Regions from separate parts of the Homo sapiens genome. Here regions 1 and 3 are each reported to be linked to region 2. Evidence: microRNA targets listed by miRTarBase, many of them from high-throughput screens and not tested one by one. Region 2 holds a microRNA gene; each other region holds the end of a gene's coding sequence.
The links. The annotated mature microRNA hsa-miR-1-3p reads UGGAAUGUAAAGAAGUAUGUAU and lies in region 2 at 3,696-3,717, opposite strand. An mRNA with a match to its seed (bases 2 to 7 or 8) in the 3' UTR can be bound and repressed. Matches are read on the target gene's strand: a 7mer-m8 pairs with bases 2 to 8, a 7mer-A1 pairs with bases 2 to 7 and ends in A, and an 8mer does both.

Region 1 (7,113 bases), not on the chromosome of region 2:
CCAGGAAAGTTTTTACACCATGCTAAGCTTCTGTCTTTTCATCGGCAAAATGGAAATAATGTCTATGTGACAGGGTTATTGTGTGGCTTAAATGAGATACAGGTAAAGTATTGAGCACAGGGCCTGGCACATAGGAAGTGCACCTCAACAGTACCTACCTTTTTCCATATATATGGAAAAAGAGGTAACACATAAAACACTAGGACATGGTTACTGACTACTTGTGGGAGAGAAAAAAAAAGCTAAGGGCAAAGAATCAAGTCTGGTATGTTAGTTTTTACCAACTGAGATGCATCCAAGATGGGATTAGACATACAAGGTAATTTATCAGGGAAGACACCTGTGAGGGAATGTGGAGCAGGCATGAAGGTAGTATGGGAGAACCCACAGAACACTATGCAGAGCTGATTCCTGTGAAAAAGAAAGAGAAAGAAGTTTTAGGTACCAATGCAGTTCTAAGAGTATTTGCAAGGCTGATGGGGAATCCTCCAACCAGCCACCCATTAGAGTTAAATAGAGCCTCAGAGAACTAGGCTTGCTTTCACACCCTTCCTGGGAGCCTGTAGGAAAGAAGCTTTCTGTGTAAAGGAGGTAGTGAATTTGAAATGCACTGACCTGGGCCTTCTGTCAATCAGGTCCCTGCCATGGAGACCTGACAGAGTCTCAGTCATGACTGCAACAACTGAGACACTGAGAAAAAGAACAGGCTGATACCTTCATGAAATTCAAGACAAAGAAGAAAAAAACTCAATGTTATTGGACTAAATAATCAAAAGGATAATGTTTTCATAATTTTTTATTGGAAAATGTGCTGATTCTTTGAATGTTTTATTCTCCAGATTTATGAACTTTTTTTCTTCAGCAATTGGTAAAGTATACTTTTGTAAACAAAAATTGAAATATTTGCTTTTGCTGTCTATCTGAATGCCCCAGAATTGTGAAACTATTCATGAGTATTCATAGGTTTATGGTAATAAAGTTATTTGCACATGTTCCGTAAGAATCTGCTCTCTTTATAACAGGACACATTTGAAAACATTGGTTATATTACCAAGGCTTTGACTGGGATGTTATATTTGAGAATATACATAGAATAAACCCATAGGGAATGCAGGCAAAGTCTGAAGTGGGCCTTGGTTTGGCTTCCTAGTCTCAAGAGGTTTTTGGAAGTTTCATCTGAGATTCTTATTAAAAACTTCTAGCAAAGAGAAGTTTAAAAAGAGCCTCTATGGTCCATTGCTACTCTTGCCGCACTTAGGTAAAAAATCTGGGCAAGTTCGGTGAGACTCAACCTATTTTGCAAGCAAATTCATCTTATTGGAATTATCTTTGGTAAAAATAGAGACTCCGATAGAGAGAAAAACTAGCTGAAAAGAAAAACTGTAGTACACCTGTTACCAGATTGAACCACTGTTCATTATCTTTGAGTATTTATAATCCACTGGTAGACTGGACTGGACCCTGAATTCTTTTAGTTCTTCCAATTCAGTTTTCTCCAATGAAATCATTAAGAACAAGAGCGGCTCTGTTCCTGAAGCCATATAAGGTGGAGGTGGACAACTCAATGTAAATTTCATGGGAAAACCCTCGTGTTTGAGGTGGGGGCCACTAAGAGCTCACCAAATGTTCAACACCATAACTTAGAGACACTCAAACTGCAAACCACGACAAGCTGATGACTTTACACTGTGGACAGCTTTTCTCAAGATGTCAGAACAAGACTATCAGTCATGATGAGACTCTTACCTCTCTTAATTTGTCTTTGCTTTTGCCTGTCTCCTTTGCTTCCCAGAATAATGCTGTACTTAGGATTTCACCAGAAATAGCCTCTGAGAGTAAGTTAACAGTGTCAGATATATCATGTCAACCACACTTCGTTTTTTTTTTTTTAAGATGGAGTTTCGCTCTTGTTGCCCATGCTGGAGTGCAATGGCACAATCTTGGCTCACAGCAACCTCCACCTCCTGGGTTCAAGTGATTCTCCTGCTTCAGCCTCCCCAGTAGCTGGGATTACAGGCATGCACCACCATGCCCAGCTAATTTTGTATTTTCAGTAGAGACAGGATTTCTCCATGTTGGTCAGGCTGTTCTCGAACTCCTGACCTCAGATGATCTGCATGCCTCAGCCTCCCAAAGTGCTGGGATTACAGGCATGAGCCACCGCACCCAGCCCACACATTTTTACATAACAAGACATCCTTTAGTCCACACAAAGGCTGACGTTAGCTGCATCTGTAACACAACTTTTTCCTCAAATGTATGGAGTTTTTTTTAGGCTTCCACTTCTATACTTGCCTATTCTCACTCCCTGTTTTAATTTAACATAGACATGCAATGCTAGATAATAGAATTGTTCTCTACCAGCTGGACAGCGGGGAGTCTGTGCAGTTTCTGACACTTCTTGTTGCACATGGATAAATACATCGGGTATTATAGAGACTCAGTTGTAAAAATCAATAAATGTGCTGCCTGGTTAAAATGACTAGACTCTTCTGGCTTCTTCTTTGATCTATCCTATTGTAGTTGGTTTGCATCTTGCCTAAGGTGCATATTCCAAACTCTTGATATTTTCCTCCTGATAGTCATACTGGTATTCTCCCTCATGTGGTGGAATCTACAGATGTTTTTATTTCTGTGCAAATATTTGTGTGCAGCCATTCTTCAAATATCAAACGGTTTCTCTTGTGCTGGAATTACAAAAACTCAAAGAAATGTGTGATTTATGGGCTGGGTGCAGTGGCTCACATCTGTAATCCCAGCACTTTGGGAGGCCAAGGCAGGCAGATCACAAGGTCAGGAGTTCAAGATCAGCCTGATCAATATGGTGAAACCCTGTCTCTACTAAAAATACAAAAATTAGCCAGGCATGGTGGCGTGCACCTGCAGTCCTGTAGGGAGACCCCCAGAAACTACTGCTACAGAATAAAAGATGAAATGCTCTTGATTATTGTAAATACAAAATTGCACGCAGGATTGTGTAAACACAATGACAGGTTGGGCTGCGAGAATGAGCCTACAGCACGGGATGTGCTTCTGTTACATGGATGGGAGATAGAATTATGAGTTTAGAACATAGATTACAAATGCAACCTGATTGGAACACTTCTGATTTTTGTAAAACTCTGTTCCAATATAAAGAGTCTGGTCACAATCGGGAATCAGTAATATGCCATTTACAAGGAAGTGAAGATAATTTAAGTTTAGACATAAGCAAGCTGAAAGAACAGATTTTTGAAGCTTCTCAAGCACACTTAACTGCTTTACCCAGTGCTGAAGTTTTAGACAGTATCTCTGAGGGGTTATCTAATCTCAACCCCATTCAATAGGTAAAATCTTTGGGAGGATCCACTATCGTTAATTTTGTTCTGTGTATAATTTGTGCTGTTGGTTTATTGTTCATGTGTAAAATTGGAAAAAATGTTCTTCAATCCAATTGTGATCAGTGCCAAGCTATGATTGCTATGGTTCATTTAAATCAGAGAAAAGCAGAGATGTAGGGAGAACCCCTGAACTATTGCTACGGAATGAAAGATGAAATGCTCCTGATTATTGTAAATACAAAGTTGCATGCAGGATTGTGTAAAGACAAATGCCAGGTTGGACTGCCAGAATGAGCCAACAGCACGTGATGTGCTTCCCCCTGCAGAGAGCCTATGAACGGACATGCAGTCAGGGAGGTTTCACATTACCAAGATTCCTATCCCAGAAAAGCAGATGTCCATAGCTCTGGGAATGGAATGTGACCCTTACGGAGAGCCTATAAATGACCCTAAATCCCTCACTAACCTACCCCCACTCTCACTAAACTTAATAATAAATGCTGGTATATCCAGTGCATTGGCAGCATCGCAGGACCAGAAGGCAGTGACCCCTCTGGACCCAGCTTTCACTATCTTGTGTGTGTCTTTTATTTCTCAACCTGCCAATCTGCCTGGGAACAAAGAAAGAGCCCCGTTGCATTGCAGGCTGCTGGCCAGATCCTGCAATATAGTCCCAGCTACTTGGGATGCTGAAGCATCTGTAGAGGGAGAGCTGCCCCAAATCATAAATCACAAATAAAAGCCAATTACATCTATAACTAAATTAGTTGTAATTTTGTCTTATCACACATGTTCACAGGAAGCAATGGCCAGTGGAGTCTCTCAGACTGCATCATTCTCACCCTGACCCTCCTGCCTTCCTCTTTCACTCACAAGGACCCTTATGATGATACAGGGAGCCACCCAGATAAGCCAGAATAAGCTTTCCATCTCAAAATACTCAACTTCATCAACTTTGAACAGTGTTTTTGCCAAGAAAAGTAAATGCATTCCAAGTAAATGTGTTCCAAGAGTTAGGATGTGGATTTTTTTTTTTTTTTTGAGACAGAGTTTCACTCATGTTGCCCCGGCTGGAGTACAGTGGGACAATCTGGGCTCACTGCAATCTCCGCCTCGCAGGTTCAAATGACTTTCCTGCCTCAGCCTCCCAAGTAGCTGGCATTACAGGCGCCCGCCACCACACCCAGCTAATTTTTGCATTTTTAGTAGAAACGGGGTTTCACCATGTTGGCCAGGCTGGTCTCGAACTCCTGACCTCGTGGTCTGCCCATCTCAGCCTCCCAAAGTGCTGGGATTACAGGCGTGAGCCACCGCACCCGACCTGGATGTGGACATTTTTAAGAGGCCATTATTCTGCCTCATACAGGTCACTTTCATAAACATCACCGACAAGAAAAATGTTTTGCCTTCCTTCCATGTCTCACTTTTCTGTCTGCGCAAACCACAGTGAAACACACTAGCTCTGCTATGAAGTGGCTGGATGACCCTGGGCCACTCGTTTGACCTCCTTCAGCCTCTTTCCTCATCTGCAGTGTAAGACTGACTCTTACTGCATCAGAAAATGACAGTGGAAGAGTAAATTAACATGTGTGAGACATTAATCACAGAGCCTGGTACCTGATGAGCCCTTGGTAAACATTCCTTTCAGTTCTTTCCTTTCACCTTCCCATTTTTCTTGCCCTCACCCATCTTCTCCTTCAACTCCTTTCTCTTCAGTAACTTACTCTGTCTAACCTGCCAATTACAGAAGCCACACTACCCATTCTCTCGTGACTCTGCTGGAATGTTCTTGTGATGCAGTCTGCTATCCACTGAAGGCAATGGGTATTATTTATATAGAGAGGTCTGTTTGCAACAAGAAATCCTTTTTCTATTCACACAAAATTTATACACAATTTCTCTTAACTTACACGTACCAGTCTCAATTCTACCCTGTTATTTCATACATGTACTTCATTATTTTATTCTTTGGTCTTTCTCCTTACACCTTAAAAATTAGGACAGTACAAAAACAAAAATAATGACCTGGGCCAGAAGAGGGGATTCCTTTAGCAAGATGAATGCTTTCCTTTTTCAAGATGAATGAATGCTATGTGTAAGGCAGACCTGAAGCCCATTTCTGGGTTTGGCTTACATCAAAGCCATTTGACTCTAGGACACATTCTTAAATTCCCAAGAGATAATGATTGTCACGGAAGCCACACCCACTATGAGCATTCCTACTGTTGGGTAAAGGAATGTTTACAGAATGTTGTGCATTCTGTTTACTCCTCCTAAATTCTTCCACTCCTGGAAGTTAAGCTTCCCCACTAATCAGCTTCATCTCCAGCTGGCCTGCCTGGACCCTGACTGGAAAATACCTCCCCACTCTGGATGGCCAGGGTGGCACCTTTGTCTATTCCCATAATTATAATAGCTCACACTGATGCAGCACTCACTATGTACCAGGCACTATCCTAAGGCCTTTCCAGGTAACTACAGTCCTCACCAAAAAATCCCAAGTGCGGGCCGGGCGCGGTGGCTCATGCCTGTAATCCTAGCACTTTGGGAGGCCGAGACGGGCGGATCACTAGGTCAGGAGATCGAGACCATCTTGGCTAACACGGTGAAACCCCGTTTCTACTAAAAATACAAAAAATTAGCCGGGCGTGTTGGCGGGCGCCTGTAGTCCCAGCTACTTGGGAGGCTGAGGCAGGAGAATGGCATGAACCTGGGAGGCGGAGCTTGCAGTGAGCCGAGATCGCGCCACTGCACTCCAACCTGGGAGACACAGCGAGACTCCGTCTCAAAAAAAAAAAAAAAAAAAAATCCCAAGTGCCACCATCCCCGTTTTTACAGATTAAAAAAAAAACAACTGGGGAAGGAGCCAAGATGGCCGAATAGGAACAGCTCTGGTCTACAGTTCCCAGCGTGAGTGACACAGAAGATGGGTGATGTCTGCATTTCCATCTGAGGTACCGGGTTCATCTCACTAGGGAGTGCAAGACAGTGGGCGCAGGACAGTGGGTGCATGCACCGTGCACGAGCCGAATCAGGGTGAGGCATTGCCTCACTCAGGAAGCACAAGGGGTCAGGGAGTTCCCTTTCCTAGTCAAAGAAAGGGGTGACAGATGGCACCTGGAAAATCGGGTCACTCCTACCCGAATACTGGGCTTTTCCGACGGGCTTAAAAAAGGGCGCACCACGAGATTATATCCCACACCTGGTTCGGAGGGTCCTATGCCCACAGAGTCTCGCTGATTGCTAGCACAGCAGTCTGAGATCAAACTGCAAGGCGGCAGCGAGGCTGGGGGAGGGGCGCCCTCCATTGCCCAGGCTTGCTTAGGTAAACAAAGCAGCCTGGAAGAGGGAACTGGGTGGAGCCCACCATAGCTCAAGGAGGCCTGCCTGCCTCTGTAGGCTCCACCTCTGGGGGCAGGGCACAGACAAACAAAAAGACAGCAGTAACCTCTGCAGACTTAAATGTCCCTGTCTGACAGCTTTGAAGAGAGCAGTGGTTCTTCCAGTACGCAGCTGGAGATCTGAGAATGGGCAGACTGCCTCCTCAAGTGGGTCCCTGACCCCTGACCCCCAAGCAGCCTAACTGGGAGGCACCCCCCAGCAGGGGCACACTGACACCTCACGTGGCAGGGTACTCCAACAGACCTGCAGCTGAGGGTCCTGTCTGTTAGAAGGAAAACTAACTAACAGAAAGGACATCCACACCAAAAACCCAACTGTACATCACCATCATCAAAGACCAAAAATAGATAAAACCACAAAGATGGGGAAAAAACAGAACAGAAAAACTGGA
Region 2 (7,116 bases):
GCAGAGTCCTCCCCAAAGGCAGAGTCCTCCCTGGGCACCCAGGGGCCTCCGGGGAGGGCCCTCCCAGCCCCAAGCTCTGGCCAGCTGGGCCTGGGACCTCAGGAAGGAGCAGACAGCACGAGGCTCTGGGAGCTGCTGATACTGTCTGCGGGTGCCTTCCCTTCCCAAAAGCCATGCCCAGCTCTTCCTGGGTGCGATGCCTCCAGTTCACAGGGACAGAGGCTGCTGGTTGGCCAAGGACAGTGGGCAAGGCCAGGGCCCCTCACAAAGCCCTGTGCTCCTGTCCAAGAGCCTCCCTTGCTGGGGCCCAAGCCCAGCCACCCCGAGGTCAGCATCCTGCCCGGGGGCATCAAAGGCAGGAGCAGGGCTGCAGAGAGCACGGGAGGCCTCTGCAGTCGGACGTGCACGGCGGGGCTGAGTCAGCACAAAATCCCTCAGGTTGCTGGGTTACCCTTCATGCGAAGGTGGCAGCGACTCACGGCATTGCACCGCCCCGCCCACCTCTGGCCATCCCTGCCCAGAAACCCTTCAGGCCAGCACTGCCCAGCCACGCCCTGGCCCTGAAGATGGCTCGGGCCACTCAGGTTCTCTCATTTTTACTTTAGAGCATTTTTTGGGTAAAATTTGCAATTCGAGTGATGTTCATTTTGATTGACTCCGGCTGCGGCATCTAAAATATCTGTCCTGTGGGTCAATCTAATCATGCTTGATAGCAGTTTATTCTTCGACGCAACGTTCCCCATGTGAGCCCGACAGTTTCACAGAGACTGCCGACGCACCTCTCGCGAATGCTCTCACCAGCCGCTGCGCCTGCTTTGAATGCTTGTGCAATAAAACACTGTATTGCACTTGAATGCACTACTAAGCCAGAATCACCAAAGGCCCCCTCTTTAGAAGGGGGTGCCACTATGTCCTCGGCCCCCTGGCTGCAGAAATGCAAGACCACTCATCGTGACACACGCGTGCAGGCACAGCAGCGGGGCCGTCCCTTCCCAAAGACCGTCCTTCTCCTGCGTGCAAGCTCCAGGACCCAGAGCCGGTCTCACTCACGGGTGGAAACAGTGCCTGGAGCATAGCTAGCTTTTGTGAGCCATAGGATAGAAAAAGGTAACTAATTTGGTCCGCTGAATTTATGAGCTCCACAATTTCTGCAGCGGCTGTTTCCACGAGCGGGAGCCTGGCCCAGCCTCTGATCACCGTGGGGCAGTTTCCAGAGTGTTCTGGGAAACCCAGAAGCCTACACCTGGTGCTACCTGCTCTAGGGAGTGAGAGACACCGGCACTGGCCACCTCCTCATGGCCACACAAACCCACCTGGGTTCCCGAGCTGGCAGGCGAGGGGGTGGGTGTCCCATGTCCAGCCCCCTCAGCCCAGTCCAGGCTCATTTCCCTCTGAGAGTCCCGGCCCCCATGGTAGCGTGCCTAAGCCGTCTCAGGAGAGTCCCTGCGGGCAAGACATAGCCAGTGAGGGTCTGTGCCCCCGCCCTGCCTGCTCTCCCCTCCTTCAAACGGACAGGCACAAAGACCCCCACAGGGGAAAGTCCCAGCGTGTCCATGCCCCACGCCAGTTTGGGGTTCCCGTCCTGGCTGCTGCCCGGGAGCCAAGCTTTAGAGATTCACGCATGGGAGACTCCAGCCCCGGGTCCCAGTGTCTCCAGGAAAGCAGCAGGATCCCCAGGGAGCACCATCAGGCCACACGTGCAGGGGAGAGGGGCTCGGGCTGCCATGGGCGGTGTCCGTGCAATGCTCATTTTTAATTCAGCAGATCAGAGACTGGAGGTGATTTACCGCCAAGCAGGCCGCAGCTCTCTCCCTGTGAACTCTCCAGTTTTACTGCTCAGTCAAACCTAATTCCAAAACACTAATGCTTTTATTTAAACACCACATCCTGCAATAAAGCTTTAATGTACAACAGCCGCATCTAGGGGAAAAGAACGGTGTGTCTGTGGCCACCGGCAGCCTCGGTGGCCACACGCCCGGCTACTTCCCTCCCTGTGGCCGGAGCTGGGAGCAGGCAGGGAAGAGATGACGTCAGCGGATGCTGGGCACTGACCCTCCGGGTCCAGAGGCCGAGAGGAGGCTGTGCCCGAGGTCAACACCCGCCCCCTTGCTGCTACGCCAGATGGGGCTGAGGCTGGGAGAACGAAGTTTCCAGAAGGAAGACCTGAAGGCCAGGAGCCCTGACTGCCAGGCCCTCCCCTCCAGTCACCTCGAGGCTCCCTGAGGGGTGGGAGCCACCTGAAAGCTCAGAACGGCCCCCAATCCCTTTATCCAGCGCTCCCTATGCTGGCCCCAGCTGCTCAGGTGACCTGGCTGCCCCCAGACCCAAGGCCTCCAGCCGCTGCAGGAGGGGGCTGCCTGCCTGTCCCTTCCCGCCTCATTCCTGCCGAAGGCCAGGGTGCGGGAGGTAGGGCACAGGGGCACCGCTGTGGCTGGAGCAGTGCCAAGGCAGAGAGGACACACACCCCAGAAATTAATCCTGAGGCCTGTGGCAGGGTGGGGGTGCCCAGGCAGGGACCTGGCCTCATCCCAGGTGGCAAACGCCTCCAATCTGAGACTCAGAAACGAGCCGGGCAAACGCCCCTCACACAGCAGCCCAGCCGCTGCCTAAGACCCCAGAACCCGCCGCCCATCCTCTCCTTGAAGGACCAGCACTGGGGAAAAGGGTTTCACGGACGGATCCGGACCTGCCCTCATCCCCTGGGCCCCAGGACATCCTCCCAGTCCTTTCTCGGGTCAGGACTGGGATGGCGGCAGAGCAGATGGCTCTCAGGCCCCCGACAGGTGGGGCAAGGGGCCCTGGGCCACACGCTGCTTTCTGCCAAAGCCTCACCTGCATTCACAGCAAAACATGCCTCAGGTTGGATTCGGCGGAACAGAGAGAAAGCTGAACCGGGGCTTTGGTGGGGGTACAGGTTGGGGCGGCATGAACCAGACATTTGGCAAAATCGAACGGCTCCCAGGCCCCTGGGGTGGGCTGTGGGTTCAGGGCTGCACAGACTCAGCTCCTCTGACCCTGTCCCAGGTGCCCTCGGCAGAGGAGTGGGGCCTAAGGGCAGTGGTGGCCCTGACCCTGCCCGCGTCCCCAGCATCTCGTGTGGGCTGCGCCTTCCTTGGAGGCTACATGCCTCCGAGTTCCTCTGCCTTGCCCTACAGCCGGGAGGGCTGGATGCAGGTGCAGGAGGTGCCTTCCCTCCGCAGACTCTACCATGTGCTGCCCAGCCTCTCCCTCCTTTCTGCATCCAGCCACCTGCCCTTTTCCAAACTCGCTCTTGTCTTGTGCCTCTGAGCAGTTTCTGCCCTGGCCACACGTGGCCCTTTCTGCCGGCTGATGGCCTCTTCCAGGATGGCCATCAGTGGAGCCCCCAGAGCCGCCGCCACCACTCCGTGCTTTCCAGCCACGGCCCCGACCCCCCAGCCCTCACCAGCCCCGCGCTGGACCCCGCGCCTGCCGGAGGCCGCCTCCCCTCTGCCGCAGTCAGCAAGCTGAATATTTAATGTCTGGTGAGCACTTCCACCTGCTGACACAGGCAAAGTGACAGAACAATGCTGGCGGGGACACGACCGTCCACCAACGCCCAGGCAGCCTGCCGCCCCAGCCTCACCCCCACCACAGCCGCCTGGCTGGCTGTCGGCCGCGGCGGCCCCCGTGGTGTGGAGTGCCCCTCAGTGCGGCGAGAGAGGTCCCGGCCTGAGATACATACTTCTTTACATTCCATAGCTTAGCAGGTCCATATGGGCATATAAAGAAGTATGTTTCCCAAGCAGGCAGTCTGCATGCAGTTCCAAGACCCCGGGACGCCGCCCCGGTAGAAGCTGACCCCACTGCGATGTAGAGAAGGCAGCTCAGAGGCAGTGTAACTTCTTCCCTGGAGTCTACTGCCGGAGCCCTCTCTGTGTGAGCAGGACAGCCTTCCTGCCACTGCTGCCTGGTGTCCAGCCACCCCCAGGGGCCCAGGACTCCCTGCCCCCTTCTGACCTCGGCGCCCCTCCATCCCTGAATCCATCTCTCTCTGTCTGTCTCACACACTCACACGATCCAGAAAGGCAGAAGTGGACAGTGAGCCCCAGAAAGTCTCGAGCGCCTGTCCCTGGCCCCAGCAGTAGCTCGGTTTTGCGTCCATGGAAGAGACAGGCTGCCCCTCCACCCTCACCCCAGAGCAGGGAGGCATCATCCATGTCCCAAACTTTCAAAGCCAACACTTTCCTGTCCCCCTGGGTCACCTCATCCCAGCCAAGCCCAGAGAGGGCTGGGTGGAGAGAGGAACCTTGGGGGGCGCCCTGCCCAGCACCCCACTCGCAGGACCAGCCTCCTCCTTCTCCGGGAGCTGGACAACTCCTTGCTCCTGAGGCCAGACGAGGAACTGCAGACCAGAGACCCGAGAGGTGTCCTGGGGGCTTACCTGGGCATCTGCTGGTTTCCTGGGCAGGTCCCTGGTGAAGGCTGCCTCCCGGGACCCCGTATCCATGAGGAAGGGCTCAGCACCTCTCTCCGAAGATGCAGGCGAGAAAGACGATGCTTGGAGGAGTCCAGGTTCCCAGAGGGTGGTCAGGATCTCCTGAGAGGCCGTCCACTAGGGGGGCAACTCCCTAGGTGCCTCAGCCTGGCCACAGCAGACACCCAGTGGGCGAGGGAGCGTCGCTCCCCCGGTTCTCTCCCTCCTTCTCTCGCTCTTCTTCACCCTCTCCCCCGTCCCCGCCTCGCAGCGTCACCACCCTGAACCGCCGCGCAGTGCGGCCCACCTGAAGCGGCAGCTGCGCAGAGCCAGCAGCTTACATGGGCACCGGGGGTCAGCAGCCACCGTCACCTGCCCAGCGCCACTGCCGTGGCACCCCCGGGAGGCTGGTCCCACACCTGGCTCTTTGTGGCCAGCCGCCCAGCCTCCACCAGCCCCTGATCAATACCAATTTACAGTCAAATGCAGGGGGCCGCCTTCCTGTTAATGAATTTCCCGGTGCTCACCAGCTCCTAATGAGCCTGTTAAAGAGGGTTTAAGTAAACTTAGCGAGTGGCAAACTAAGCACTTTGGAATACTTAATTGTATCGATATGTTTTTCATTGCGTTTAAAAATGTCTCTGAGTGGGAAGCAGAGGCTGCCTCCTTCCCTGCCAACTTCTATGACCAGCCGTGAAGCCAGACTCTGAAAAATGTGGAGAAAGAGCCAGAAGGAGACCAATGGGACCTCAAGGTTAGGCCCTCACCAGCAGGAAGGGAAGCCGCCCCGAACCTGCTGGGAGCGGGGAGAGGAGGAGGAGGAGGAGGAGGAGGCCTGCAGGGTTTCGAGGCCTCGCAGTGGCCCAGGGCGAGCCTGGCACGTGCGGTGGTGAGAGGTGGAAAGAAGGCTTTGCAGGTGCCTGGGGGGGACGGGGGCCAGGGAGGCGCCAGTTGGGGGTGCAGGCCGGGCACAGACACAGGAGGCTTGCTAAGCGGTGGGGTCCAGCTGGGCCCTGGCCCCTGTCCTGCCACTGACCCTGGCGTGGGGTGGGACAGCAGCCCCGGGACATGAAAGGACCTCCCGTTGTCCTCATCAGGAAGAGAGGTCCAACATGACTCTGTTGCTCCTCCAGGCAGCCCGTCCATGCGAGGGGACAGCCCGGAGCGAGTTGGTTCTCTCTTACCACCCAGGGCAGGGCAATGTCTCCGCAGAGCCTGCAGTGTGCAGAGGCCACTGAGCATGCTGTGGCTGTGTGGCAGTGGGTCTGCAGCTGGGCATGGCTGGGTTGGAGTTTCACGTGGGGGTGGGTGGGGGCGGGGGGTGGGGGTTGTGCTTAAGGCTCTGGAGGCATCCCCTCTACAAAGGAAGGAGCAAATGGCAGACAGAAGCAGAAGCTGATGTCCCATTTCCACGTAGCTGCTGTGATTTATCATTTTCACGTAGCCAAGGATACAAAAAGGGCACCCGACACCGCAGCCTGAGCTTCAACTTCGGGGGCACCTGGGTTCCGCCGCTCATCTGTGCCCTCCCAAGACCTCCGCAATAACCGTCCCCGGAGTCCAGGGAAAAGGCCTCCTCAACGTCCCCAGCTCCCTGGCACATGAGCTCTCAGAGCCTGGGACACTCCCGCAGCCTGGCTCAAGCCCCCACGACCTGTGAGGCATTCATCTGGACGGGGTCTGGGGGTCAAGGGGAAAGCTGGGAGTCCCAAAGGGCAGGAGAGTCACCCCAGACCCAGCCAGAGTCCACAGGACTTCTGCCCACTCACAAATGAATTGTAGTCACTTTTCAAAAAGTTTCCCGTCTGCATAGAAAAAGAGCACCCAGCCGCCTCCAAGCAGACCCCACCGTGAGCCGAGCTGGCTCCTGTGCCCGGGGCCTCCTCCGGGGCTCTTCAGCGGTGAATACCGCCCGGCCCCCGGCATCAGCGCCGCGGGAGGCCACGCGGGAAGTCAAGCTCCCCAGCAGGGACCTGCACAGACGCCGACCACCAGGGCTGCTCTCCCCGAAGCCCCCCTAGTCTCCGCCCACATGTGCCCCCCGCCCCCCACCTCGCCGCCCTGCCCCTGTAAACGCCTCCTGACCCTGACGTGGCTGGGAGAGCTGCAGAAGTGCCGAGTCCCGGCCGGGGGCAGCCTCGCCGCCGCTCAGCTCGGGAATCCCTGCCCCCCACCAGCACCTCAGTGGGGGATACTGCAAGTTCAAGGTAAGTTTAGCCCCACGCCCGGCTGCCGGGGCTTTGTTGCGGAGCGGCAGGTGAATCGCGCCCCCAGCCCAGCCCCGAAGCCCCCATGCCATCCACTGCCCGCGTGGGGGGCCGCTGCTTTCTTGCAAAATGCCCGCAAGTCAAAGTTCCTGCCTCCCAGCTGGACGCGCCCTCCAGGCCCTGCCGGCTGCTGGCTCTGCAGTTTTCCAAATGTGGATGATGCCGCGAGCCAAGAGAAAACTCCACGGCACCCCCGCCGGAGCCGCACGGCGCCGGCACCCGCAGCACCCACCTCGCTGGCAGGCACACCCCCCACCGCGGTGCCCGGCAAGTTTGCAGGGGCCGTCCCGGCGGCCCAGCGGTGGTGATGGGCTGAGCAGGACTCACCGCGGAGCCCAGGGCACCCCTGGGGCCGGGCTGGTGACAGCGGCAGCGGCGGCGGGCGCAGGGTCGCGGCTCCCTAGGAGATGCTGC
Region 3 (7,113 bases), not on the chromosome of region 2:
CGAGTCCCTTTTTGGAATGTGTAGTGTTCACTGGGTTTTGAGTATTGCCCATTTTATGTCAGTTAATCATCTGTATCATACCCAAGTTCTTTTTTTTCTTTTTTAGAATTTTATTTATTTTATTTATTTTATTTTTTGAGACAGTGCCTTGCTCTGTTGGGCTGGAGTGTCTGTCGCCAGGCTGGAGTACAGTGGCATGATCTTGGCTCACTGCGACCTCCACTTCCTGGGTTCAAGCGATTCTCCTGCCTCAGCCTCCTGAGTAGCTGGGACTACAGGCATGTGCCACACCACGACAGGCTAATTTTTGTATTTTTATTAGAGATGGGGTTTCACCATGTTGGCCAGGATGGTCTCGATCTCTTGACCTCATGATCTGCCCACCTCGGCCTCCCAAAGTGCTGGGATTACAGGTGTGAGCCACTGCATCCAGCCTATACCCAAGTTCTTTTGCATTAGTTCCTTGTGTGATTAATACAGCAGCCTTAGCACATTTTTTTTTTTTTTTTTGGCTTGGTCTTTTTCATTTATGAAAAACTATGATATGTCTAATCATATCATTCAAACCTAGTTATGTGCTTGCTGAAAAGTGAAGAGTAACTTCATTTTTAGGAGTAAAAACAAAGCAAGCTTGCAGCTCCAAGCTTCCCTTTCTTTTTTTTTTGAGACGGTGTCTTGCTCTGTCACCAGGCTGGAGTGCAGTGGCGCGATCTCCGCTCACTGCAGCCTCCGCCTCCTGGTTCAAGCGATTCTCCTGCCTCAGTCTCCCGAGTAGCTGGGACTACAGGTGCGCACCATGATGCCCAGCTAATTTTTGTATTTTTAGTAGAGACGGGTTTCATAATGTTGGCCAGGATGGTTTCAATCTCTTGACCTCGTGATCCACCCACCTCGGCCTCCCAAAGTGCTGGGATTACAGGCATAAGCCACCGCTCCCAGCCCAAGCTTCCCTTAGTTGAGCAAGTTCTGTTAATTTTGTTTTGCCAGGCTGCACTTTGCCCATACATACGGCAAGGGATGTTTAAACGTTTATCTTTGAGCATGTACGTTTTACTATTTTTCTTTAGATTGGGATGCTTGGAAGGTGTGTCTACGACTTCGAGATAATGGACTTCTGGCCAAGCCAACCCATGGCGACATTATCAGGTTTGCGCCTCCGCTGGTGATCAAGGAGGATGAGCTTCGAGAGTCCATTGAAATTATTAACAAGACCATCTTGTCTTTCTGAGGGTAGCCAGCTGTTTTCAGTGGTCCCTGGGAGCCAGCTGGAGACAGGTGGTCCTGTAAAAGCTTTATTCCTAATGTGGGCACATTCCACTCCCATGAGTCTTCAAAAACTTTTTTTTTGAATATATTTTTTTCAGTTGATACATAATAGAACAACGTTTATGAACCTGCCGTTTGCTTTGTAACGTAACTAAATAATGTAATGGCATCTATATTCAGTTGAAGTGTTTTGATGTGCATGTGTACTTCCTAAGGTGAAATGCATCTATATACAGACAGCCTCTAAATCAAGTCCTTCAGTATAATTGATATATGTTTTTATAATTTCCTCACTGGTATAAGTGTTTCATATTTGAAAAAGTTATCTCTGGGTATTGCATAAAAGGCTTCATCTTATAAAGTGAAATCATTGTTATTGAATTTTAGGAAGGATTAATGGTTAAGTGTATATAAAATACTAATATTAAGTAAACTTCATATTGGCCAACACCAGGGTTGTATTCTATGGATGTCATTATTTTGAATTAAGAATTAGTGTTTAACATTCCTAAATTGTTTTGAGTGCTTGATTATAATTTGTAAAAAATGTTTATTTTCAATACTTCTTTAAATTTAAAATAAAGCTTATATTTCAAATGTCTGTTTTGTGATGATTATTCACCTTAAAAGGAAGAAGCTGAGGCAAAATTAATATAGAATGTTTAGGTGGGCCAAGGTTGGGGACTGCAGCTCGGGACACACTTCCAGGTTGCCCTGGAGAGTGCTCCAGAGAACACTTCTTAAAGAAAAAAGGATAGATCAGCTGCTCTTATACCCTCTACTGACACAAGGTGAAGGGGTGATTACAAAAGTTGTTTATCAGGAATTCTCATTGGCTTACAGAACTAACCTTGGTTAGTGATTGGCTATATGCTGTTGAACTACAGGGTATATGGCATTTGATAGATACTTGGCTTCAAGAGGTAATTATGTAGCTTGGGAGAGAGTGACCTGACTATGATTTCATTCTATTGCCTCTCTGGGCCTGATAATTTAGTTTTTATTTTTTGAGATGGAGTCTCTCTCTGTCGCCCAGGCTGCAGTGCAGTGGCACGATCTCAGCTCACTGCAACCTCCACCTCCTGGGCTCACATGATTCTCCTGTCTCGGCCTCCCGAATAGCTGGGATTACAGGTGTGCACCACCACACCCAGCTAATTTTAGTATTTTTAGTAAAGATAGGGTTTCATTAAGTTGACCAGGCTGGTCTTGAACTTCTGGCCTCAGGCGATCCCCCCAACTTGGCCTCCTAAAGTGCTGGGATTACAGGCATCAGCCCCTGTGCCTGGCCTGGGCCTGATAATTTAAAGGGGCTCACGTTCTTCAGTTACAAGATTTCTTTATTCCCCATGTCACTATGCTATTACTGCAGTGTTATCAGTTACATTTTTTTTTTTTTTTGAGATGGAGTCTTGCTCTGTTGCCCAGGCTGGAGTGCAGTGGCGCAATCTCGGCTCACTGCAAGCTCCGTGTCCTGTGTTCACGCCATTCTCCTGCCTCAGCCTCCCCAGTAGCTAGGACTATAGATGCCCGCCACCACGCCCGGCTAATTTTTTGTATTTTTAGTAGAGATGGGGTTTCACTGTGTTAGCCAGGATGGTCTTGATCTCCTGACTTTGTGATCCACCTGCCTCGGCCTCCCAAAGTGCTGGGATTACAGGCGTGAGCCACTGCGCCCAGCCTATCAGTTACATTTTTAAGCTTTTTGAGATTTATTTATTCCATGTGTTTTCTTTTTTTTGTATTCCTTTTTTTTTTTTGAGACAGAGTCTTGCTCTGTTGCCTAGGCTGGAATGCAATGGCGTGATCTCAGCTCACTGCAACCTCCGCCTCCCAGGTTCAAATGATTCTTGTGCCTCAGCCTCCCAAGTAGCTGGGACAATAGGCCTACACCACCATGCCCAGCTAATTTTTGTATTTTTAGTACAGATGGGGTTTCACCATGTTGGTCAGGCTGGTCTCGAACTCCTGACCTCAGGTGATCCACCCACCTCGGCCTCCTAAAGTGCTGGGATTACAGGTATGAGCCACTGTGCCCGGCATATTCCATGTGTTTTCTAACAGCATTTCAACTCTGATCTACAGAAAACTAGAAGTTATAAAAAGAATACATCTAAAAGATAGGTCTCATACTTCCCTTTCAAAGTAGCGCGTTCTCTGTGCATATACTAATATTTATCATTTTTTTAAAGTTATCCTTTTTATATGTGGTGTTCTGCAACTTTTTCTTTTTTCTTTCTTTCTTTTTTTTTTTTTTTACCTGAACAGAGTATTTTGGATGTTTTTCCGTCTTATTCTCAAATAATTAGTATTTCATCATATATGGGTATACTGTAATTTCATCTCATATTGGGACCATTTGACTTGAATAAAACTTGTGACCACTTCATATCTTTTCACAATGGTGCAAAAGTGCACAGTGTTTCTATGGAGTAAATCCCTAGAAGTGACTTGCTTTTCAAAGAAAAAAAACTCAAGTTAATTGTGTCACATTGCTCCCTGCCTCCCCCAGGTTCTAAAAAGTTACCTCTTAGCAGTATGAGAGTTGAGTCTTTGGTACTCTGTCAGGGTAGTGCTCTGTCACTGAATGACTACGTTTAAATGAGTGAGCAGTTACTGGGAGGCCTCCTCATACCAATTACAACTGGGGTGGCACCCAGGCCAGGTAAGCTCTCCAGGGCATTCAAGGTTGAGAACCTGTCTTAGGAATCTTATTAAGATGCAGATTTTTGTTTTGGAGACATAGTCTCACTGTCACCTAGGTTGGAGTGAAGTGGTATGATCTCGGTTCACTGCAACTTCCACCTCCCAGGCTCAAGCGATTCTCCCACTTCAACCTCTCTACTAGCTAGGACCATGGCCGTGTGCCACCAGATTTGGCTAATTGGTTTGTATTTTTGGTAGAGACAGGGTTTTGCCATGTTTCCCAGGGTGGTCTTGAACTCCTTAGCTCAAGTGGTCCACCTGCCTTGGACTCCCAAAGTGCTGGGATTATAGGTGTGAACCACAGTGCCCAGCCTTAAGATGCAGATTCTAATTCAGTCTCTCTCTGTGTGTGTGTACTGGAGATTCCACATTTGCAGGTTGCCTTAGGACATACTATTATTATGATGAGTCAGTTTAATTTGCATTCAGTTATTCTCACCAGAGATGACCTTAGGGCAGGTGATTTTTAACAAAGCTATCTTCCTGCTAAATTCTTTGAAGGCTTTAAAAGTCAGAGAGGACCCAGAGGTAGGAAAGTACAGGGAGTTGTGGAGACGGTGGCCAATGACAATGAGGGCCTTTGGGCTTAATTTGGTGAGCAGTGGGGTCACTGAAGAAAGGGGTTGAAGCAGGGGCGTGGCGTGATCCTATTAGAAAATCCTAGGCTGGGTGCGGTGGCTCATGCCTGTAATCCCAGCACTTTGGGAGGCTGAGGTGGGCGAATCACCTGAGGTCGGGAGTTTGAGACCAGCCTGACCAACGTGGAGAAACCCCATCTCCACTAAAAATACAAAAAATTAGCCAGGCGTGGTGGTGCATTCCTGTAATCCCAGCTACTCGGGAGGCTGAGGCAGGAGAATCACTTGAACCTAGAAGGCAGAGGTTGCAGTGATCAGAGATTGCACCATTGCGCTCCAGCCTGGGCAACAGAGCGAAACTCTGTCTCAAAAAGGAACAAACAAAAGAAAATCCTTTCTGGCTGATGGTTTAGGGCTTACTCATGCAGTACACACTGGTTGTAGGGCCTCAGGGCCTATGTCCAGTGGTGAACAGGTGGGCAGGAACCTGCTGACGGCACTTAGTGCCCTGGGGATGAAGTGGAGGGGTGGTGAAGCGGGAGGCAGGGAGAGTCAGACACAGGCTTTGGATTTGGGGTAGAACATCAGGGCAACTGCTGTGGTTAGATACTCCCTTTCCTTAGCTGTGAGGAAGTGGGATGCTATCTACCTTTCAGGGGAGTTAGGAGGATTAAAAAAGATGGAGTAGGTCAAGCTCCTGGTGGAGGACCTGGCACAGAATTACAGATCAATAAATAAGTTGCTAGCTCCCCCTCCCCACCCCCAACACATACAGTTGGAGGAGTTTGGGAGAGAGGAAGCTTCGGGAGAAGGATTCTTTCAGATAAGGGTGACATCTAGATAAGGAAGAGATGGCGTAGAGCTGATAGCCTGGCTGTATCACAAAGGGGATGTCAAGTTAAAGGAAGAAGCTGAGGCAAAATTAATAATCATAAAGTTATTCATGATAGCAGGAGGCAGACAAAATGCCTAGGCTGATAGGGGCGGTCCCCAGTGAAACACCACCTTCAAGCCAAAAACAGCCTGAAGTCTGAAAGACTGAACTGTTGGTTCTGGATGAAACCTGTGACCCAGAGTGAGAACTTCTGTTCCTATTTGCCCACTCTTTCCCGATTGGTTCTTTCTGAATAACGCTTTTTGACCAGTTGAATGTTGCCTTTTCTGATACTACCTATGGCCTGCCCCTCCCCCATCCTGTGCCTATAAAAACCCCAGACTCAGCCACACTGGAGGAGACCACCTTCCCGTCTCCTCTCTGCTGAGAGCTGTTTTGTCGCTTAATAAACTTCTCTGCCCTCACCACCCCTCAGTTGCCAGTGTGACCTCATTCTTCTTTGACGGACAAGAACTCCAGACTCACTGAACATGGGTACTCACAAGGCTGTAACACTGTGGCCCTCTGCCCTTCACTGGCAGAGGGCAGATGCCTCATGTGATGGAAAGTAGTGATGGGGCGGAGCTGGCCCCGGAGCTGCGGGCTGGAATGGGGCAAGGGGCTGACTGAGCTGTTAACATGCCACCGTCTGTTGGGCTATGGATGGTGGGACTAAAAGAGCTAATGAGCACATTGTAACACTCTTTTGGGGCTTTAGGGTCATGGGCACCCCTGCCTGGGCACCACTGCATTCCCCTTGGAGTGACACACCTGGTCCAGCTGCAAACCCCGCATGGAGCCCACCCCTGTGCCAGCATTTGGAATGGCTGGCTGGACCCCACACTTGCTCACTCACATACCCCCTCCCACCAGGGCCTGAGCATGCAGCAGCAGCTGCTGTGGGATCTGCGCCGGAGTGCAAGCCAGATGCGGCCTGGCAGGCCCAGTAGATGGGGTGCCTCCTGCTGCGTGCCTGGCAAAGGGGCCGAGAAAAATCTTCTCATTTGGGCCAAGCTTGAGAACTGCAGCCCAGGATACATCATCAGTTTGCCTTGGGGAGTGCTCTGGAGAATATTTATAAAGAAAAAAAAATCAGGAGAAGGGGTGATTATAAAACTTATTTATTAGGAATTTTCATTGGTCTAGAGAATTGGCATTAGTTACTGATTGGCTATTCATTGTTGAAGTACAGGATGTATGGCGTTTTTGTGGCCATTTGGCTTCAGTTAGTCTAGAGCTGCATGGCAAGGGGCTTCGAGAGGTAATTATTTAGCTCAAGGGGGAGTGAGACCTGACTGCCATTATATTTTAGATACTTTTCTGGGCCTGATAATTTAAAGGGGCTCACATTCTTCAGGTAAAAAGTTATTTTTCTTCTTCGGGGAGGAGTGGTTCAAAGTAGAGGAGAACTCACAGAGTATGTGGTGCCCAGATGCACATTTAGATATGTGCAAAAGAAAGATGATAATCTTGGTACATTTTTGCACTTTAAATAGTCACCACCTTCACTCTCCACACCCCCTAATGATAACTTGTTCTTTGGATTCTGACCTTCCAGAATACCTCATCTAAATTAATTACTGCACATATAAGAAAACTGAGGTTGGGATAGGACATCTGATGTACCCAGAATAACAGAGGTGAAAGTGACAATGCGTTTCAAGCACTAGGACTGTGAAGTTCCCAGCA

Region 1: miRTarBase lists PSG9 as a target of hsa-miR-1-3p. The part of its 3' UTR that is shown has no 7-base or 8-base seed match.
Region 3: miRTarBase lists OAT as a target of hsa-miR-1-3p. Seed matches in the 3' UTR shown: 8mer at 1,310-1,317 and 7mer-m8 at 1,769-1,775.

What each region holds. Positions count from the first base shown.
Region 1 is chr19:43,247,169-43,254,281 of GRCh38, reverse strand. PSG9 (pregnancy specific beta-1-glycoprotein 9) reads left to right here. Exons shown (of 6, transcript NM_002784.5): 6 at 636-1,000. The coding sequence ends at 673. It overlaps LOC284344 (a long non-coding RNA gene), which reads left to right and starts at 5,636. Exons shown (of 9, transcript NR_033888.1): 1 at 5,636-5,791; 2 at 6,159-6,274. RefSeq lists an enhancer at 3,925-4,425.
Region 2 is chr20:62,550,952-62,558,067 of GRCh38, reverse strand. MIR1-1 (microRNA 1-1) reads right to left here and starts at 3,762; the gene lies at 3,692-3,762. It overlaps CRMA (cardiomyocyte maturation associated lncRNA), which reads left to right and starts at 6,507. Exons shown (of 7, transcript NR_033263.1): 1 at 6,507-6,642. It overlaps MIR1-1HG (MIR1-1 host gene), which reads right to left. Exons shown (of 4, transcript NR_171007.1): 1 at 7,030-7,116; 2 at 4,403-4,603. RefSeq lists enhancers at 477-1,348, 6,653-7,116.
Region 3 is chr10:124,392,057-124,399,169 of GRCh38, reverse strand. OAT (ornithine aminotransferase) reads left to right here. Exons shown (of 10, transcript NM_000274.4): 10 at 1,068-1,867. The coding sequence ends at 1,228. Among named protein-coding and RNA genes, the nearest start is that of OAT, 23 kb to the left of the region's middle.